Linked DNA regions of Homo sapiens: region 2 is linked to region 1. The links come from fine-mapping of genetic effects on plasma protein levels. Region 1 holds a variant in brackets. A gene starts in the other region. All regions are shown on their forward strands.

Region 1 (2,915 bases):
AATGAATTAATGGCATTCACAGCAACATGGATGGAATTGAAGACTATTATTCTAAGTGAAGTAACTCAGGAATGGAAAACCAAATATTGTATGTTCTCACTCATAAGTGGGGGGCTAAGCTATGACGATGCAAAGACATAAGAATAATACAATGGACTTTGAGGACTCAGGGGAAAGGGTACGAGGGGTTTGAGGAAGAAAAGACTACAAATTGGGTTCAGTGTATACTGCTTGGGTGATGAGTGCATCAAAATCTCACAAATCAAAACTAAAGAACTTACTCATGTAACTATTACCATCTGTTCCCTAAAAACCTATGGAAATAAAAAACTTTTTAAAAAAGAGGAAACGAAGAATTAAATCAGAAATTAATTCTGAGCCTAATTGAAAGAGTCAGCTTTTGAAGGAAATTTTTAGCAGTATTGACATAAAATGAAATGAATCTCATTCTAGAAAGGTTACTTTATCTTTTTAGGGCAGTTTGGTAGCTTTGAGTGTGCTGTGGCATAGTCTGTGAAACACAAATAATATTGCCTACTAATTTGAGAATATATCTAATTATATAACAATGTAATACTTCTTTATCTAATTAAAAACTATAAATGGTATCAGCTTCTTTTCTATTGTTTTAGTTAAAAATAAAAATTCACATTATTAAATGTCTATGTGATATCATACTATTTTTCTACTTTATATACTAAATTATATTAATAGGTTTATTAACTGCCTAATGTTGACAGATCTGACATGTCAGAAAATCAACTCTGACTTTGACCAGATCAAACCTGACCAAGTTACTTCCTATTGGCCTTGAGAAGAAGAAAAATATAATTAACGTGGTCTAGAGGACCTGGAAAGTCTGTCCTTTCCTATCACTTCAGTCCCACTTCCTGCCACTTATAAAACAGCTGAATGAAATTTTACTACATTGGTTATTTTGATATAATCTTGTGTAGATATGAGATGATTCTCTAAATAAAACTCCCATTCAGCAGAAAAATAGAGTTGTAATGTATTTCCATTTTAAGCCTATTTGTTACTCTGTGTCTTTGGAGCTCAGTGACAGGGTTTGTGAAACATGAGTCAAGATCTGTTTGTAATTGGCAGGAGTTTCAAAACAATAATCATGTGAGGGTGGTAGATCAGTCTTAGCAACTTTACCATAAAAGTAAAAAGAAATTTTTTTAAATGGGGTTTATTTTAGATACTGACGTTTAGAGAGCTATAATTTTGTGTGTGGTGGTGGGGAGGGTGGGGAGAATAAACATATATATCTTGTAGGAATCTCTATCAAAATTGAGATTCCCTGAAAAGGTGTCTAGAAACAGATGAACTTTCTTCATTAAATGAACTACTCTAAATATAAGGGAAAAACATATTTCACTGCTTTGTAGCAACATATTCCACTCTGAGAGAGAGTCTTAGGTGGAAAAACAGTTGCTGTAGGTGATTCAGCATAAAAAGGTGACATCATATTGACTTTTAGGTTTTTCTGAATTAAAAAA[AT/A]ATATATTTATATGTAATTGTTTTATATACATAATTATATATTTATATATAATGGTTTTATATAGAATTGTTTATATATAATTGTTTTATATATATAATTATTTTAAATATATATATACACACATAGAGATATATATATAATTCTCAATATGTAAAACAATTATTACCAATAAGAAAGTCTGTAGTTTACAATACAGATACAAGGACAGAGAAGAAAGGTGTGGGTAGTTTCTATGGATTGGAGTTGGGTCCCGTGTTCAGGAATCCTCAACTCTCTTATTGAAAGACACATTGATATTCATGATTATGGAGAGAAGAACTTTCCCTTAAAAGAGAATAGCTCAAGGGGGAGGCTTCAAGACGGCTACTAGAGGCACCCAACACTCACCACCAAAAACGATCAAAACAGCAAGTAGATAATTTCACAACGAATAGTGTCTAAGATAGAACACTGGAATCCAGCAGGGAAGTGATAGGGAACAGATCCTTCTGAGGCACAGAGAGAGAAAGAAGTGAAGCAATTGTCTGGCTAGGATTGACTGGAAGCCTGGTATGGATCCCCACTGTAGAAAAAGAATAAATGAGAGATTCCTAGCAGTCCACATTCCCACTGTGGGCCCTTGCAATCCTAGCCATGGGAGAGCCCCTCAGCTTCTGTGGGCTCTGAGACTAGTACAGGGAGCTGCCTAGAGTTTGCACAATAGCGTTGTTCCAGAGGGGGAGTTTGTGCTGGGTCCTACATCCCAATCCCCAACCCCAAGACCCAGGTAACTCCAGCATGGCACCATTTTGAGAGTCCAGCTCCCACAAGATTGCATCCTGTCCTGGGCCCCAGTAAGCCCTACATCTCTACATGTCTAGAGCCCCACTGATAACCTCCCTTATCCATCTGGAGGGCTGCAGTGGTGCCATGCTGGCTGGACTGGCAGTGTGTCTAGGTCCCCAGCCATCTATTCCACACAGTGTCTGATGTACTGGGAAATGGGTAGTTCACAGAGGAGTGTTCCCCCATGATAAAGAGAGCTGAAGCATCTCCCCAGAGCCTGAGAGCCACCTGTCTGGGGTCACTATCACTGATAGCAACCCCACTTCCTCGCAGCAGCAGGGACACTGTGCACTTTCATGAGCCTTCAGTGAGCCTGAAAATGGCTTGCCAGGATGCCATACAAGGACCTACATGGAGGTTTGCCCCACCTGCTACCACCTAAGCATGCCACCCAAAGGTCTGGAAATTGCCCTATTCCACTCACCATAGTCTGTCCCTGTGTGCAACATCAGTAGCCTTGAGGACAGACCTGCACTGCTGGGTGCCACCACTACCTCCAGCACCCACCTACATGTGCCACCTGGGGGCCTGGAGAATTGCCTGCCCAGCACTGCTAGCACCAGTGTATACCGGCTGGGAACCT
Region 2 (2,890 bases), not on the chromosome of region 1:
CCCCAATCCCAGCACTTAAAATACAAAAAATGGGACAGGAGTGGTGGCTGATGCCTGTAATCCCAGCATTTTGGGAGGCCAAGGCAGGCCGACTGCTTAAGCACAGGCATAAGAGACCAGTTTGGGCAACATGGCAAAACCCTGTTTCTAAAAAACAATAAATAAAATAAAAACAGGCCAGGCGTGGTGGCTCACGCCTGTAATCCCAGCACTTTGGGAGGCTGAGGTGAGCGGATCACAAGGTCAGGAGTTCAAGACCAGCCTGGCTCTACTAAAAATACAAAAGTTAGCTGGGTGTAGTGGCACCTGTAATCTCAGCAATTTGGGAGGCCGAGGCAGGAGAGTTGCTTGAACCCAGGAGGCGGAGGTTGCAGTGAGCCGAGATTGCACCACTGCACTCCAGCCTGGGTGACAGAGCAAGACTCCATATCGAAAAAAAAATAGATAAATACATTTTAAAAATAAAAAATTAGCTGGGTGTGGTGGCTCATGCTTGTAATCCAAGCACTTTGGGAGGCCAAGGTGGGTGGATTACCAGAGGTCAGGAGTTTGAGACCAGCCTGGCCAACATGGCAAAACCCCATCTCTATTAAAAGTACAAAAACTAGCCGGGCATGGTGGCATGCACCTGCATTCCCAGCTACTCGAGAGGCTGAGACGGGAGAACTGCTTGAACCTGGGAGGCAGAGGTTGCAGTGAGCCCAGATTGCACCACTGTACTCCAGCCTGGGTGACAGAGTGAGACTCCCTCTCAAAAAAAAAAAAAAAAAAAGAATTCATAACAGGAAGGTAAAGTGGGTGAACCTCTGAAGCACATTATAACATAAGTAGAGAAAGAGGAAGACAGAGAAAATGTGGAGAGCAGAACAGAAGTGAGAAGTGATCAAGTACTCTCATGAGGTGTGGGAGGGGGGCACTTAGTGGCACCCCACAATCTGCCTTCTGGAGAGACAGATTTCTAACCTTCTGTCTGGACTATGGTGTCAAAGTGCAAGTTGATAATTAACAGAGATTTTTCCTTTCTCTTCATCTCCATGTTCATCTCCAAGGCACTGAACAATGAAGTCAACCTTTTCATAACTGTCCATTTTTAGTTTCATTCATTGCACAAGTGCTTATTGAGCAAGGGATTTTAAGGTGATAAGAGACACACAAACACAGAAGCCCATCCCTGTCCTTAAAGAGCTCCCAATTTGACATAATTTAAATATTCATCTCCAAAGGAATTTAGAGAACCTATCCCAAATCCCAGGTTCCTCTTGGATACAGCATTTTAATCGTCAACACCCAAATCTTGTGATAGAAAAGGGCGGGCACACCAATAACTTGGAAACAACATTTATTTTTAGAATGAGTGCAGTGGCTCAGGCTTGTAATCCCAGCACTTTGGGAGGCTGAGGCGGGAAGATCGGTTGAGTCCAAGAGGTTGAAATCAGCAAGGGCAACATAGCGAGACCCCCATCTCTACAAAAAATAATAATAATTAACTAGGCGTGGTGATTAGCCCCCTGTAGTTCCAGCTACTCAGGAGGCCAAGGTGAGAGGATCCCTTGAGCCCGGGAGTTCGAGGCTGCAGTGAGCTATGATGGCCACTGCACTCTAGCCTAGGTGACAGGGCAAGACCCTGTCTCAAAAAACAAACACAAACAAAAACCCTTATTTTCAAAAATTATGAATTTTGTAAATCTCAGGATTTACATCCCTCTGTTTTTAGTTTTGCAATCCACATAAAACCAAGACAAAACAAAAGCTCTGAGAACTCACCTACTCAAGGTCGCCTTGGCTGCAATTCAGATCACCCGAAAATCCCAAAGCCCAGGCTGCACTTCAGACCAATTAAGTCGGGAAACATCCCAAAGCCCAAGTGCACCTCAGACCAATTAAGTCGGGAATCCAGGCACCCTCAGGTGATTCGAATGTGTAGCCAAGGTTGACAACAACCGCTATAAATCATTCTGCCCTTGAAACGGGAGAACCAGGATCTACATTTTTCAAGAACCAGGATCTATGGCACCGTCACCCTCGTCCCTACACACAGGCCACCAGCAATGTTCCCAGATGCAGTTTTGTGTTTCACGCGGTCAAGAACAGAATCCAATCCTCTCCCACTTGGACAAGTGAGGATGGAGGAAGGTTAATCTAACCCGCCCCGGCCCTGGTCAATATCGCATCCGTGCGGAAGCAGACGCTGGCTCGGCTTTGCGGGCCGCAGAGAAGCCCCCGGACGCCTCTCTCTCCTCCACCTGCTGGGTTCCTGGCTTCGGAATGGGGAGTTGCGGGGGTGGAAAAGAGGAAAGCCCAGCGCCGGGGGACAGGATCGCCATAGGAACGAGCACAGGCTGTCCCCCGAAAGACCGAGACAAAGAGGCGCCCCCCGCCCGAACAAACCGGCGGTACTCACGCAAGTGCCACCCAGCTTGTGGCTCTCCACCACGGCGGCCCTGGCACCCAGCTCGGCCGCCCTGCGCGCGCTGGCCAGCCCGCCCGAGCCGCCCCCGATCACCAGGTAGTCATAGGAGGCCACGGCGCCAGCAGCGGGCGGCGGGCCCTGCGGCTGCGGCTCCTGCCTGCAGGCCATGGCACGGGAGAGGGCGCGCGTGAGGGCCGCGGGCTCGGGCAGAAGCAGCAGGAAGCCTCGGAAGGCGCGCGCCGCCCGCCGCCAGCTCGGTCCCGCGCCGGCGCTCAGGGCTCGGGGCAGCAGGGCCATGCACGCGGAAGTGGCGCGCCAAGTGGGGCGGGCGGCCCGGGGGCGGTCCCCGGGGTAGGGGGGCGCGGGCCCCGGGCAAGCGCAGCCTCACGGTGACTAAGCATGCGCCCGCCGCTAGGCAAGACCCAGGAGGATGCCCAGAGGCGGGGCCGCCTCCCAGTTCCCCGCCCCGGTGGCGGAGCC

Direction of the effects. Positions count from the first base shown, and alleles are read on the strand shown. Strength reflects both the effect of a copy and how common the allele is.
With allele A in place of AT in region 1, the plasma level of the protein whose gene starts at base 2,718 in region 2 is lower (weak association).

What was found. PIP is the chance, under the fine-mapping model, that this variant and not a neighbour inherited with it causes the effect. Protein levels are from antibody-based Olink assays in UK Biobank. Linkage for the fine-mapping came from a reference panel and not from the study's own genotypes, which makes the PIPs less certain.
Region 2: it holds the start of GSR, and the variant in region 1 is fine-mapped to the plasma level of the GSR protein (UK Biobank, PIP above 0.99).

Annotation. Positions count from the first base shown.
Region 1 is chr12:7,380,457-7,383,371 of GRCh38, forward strand. All of the region lies in intron 8 of CD163L1 (CD163 molecule like 1), which reads right to left. Among named protein-coding and RNA genes, the nearest start is that of CD163L1, 62 kb to the right of the region's middle. The variant AT/A (reference allele first, on the strand shown) is at 1,506.
Region 2 is chr8:30,725,129-30,728,018 of GRCh38, forward strand. GSR (glutathione-disulfide reductase) reads right to left here and starts at 2,718. Exons shown (of 13, transcript NM_000637.5): 1 at 2,402-2,718. The coding sequence starts at 2,707. RefSeq lists an enhancer at 1,616-2,303 and silencers at 2,379-2,818, 2,889-2,890.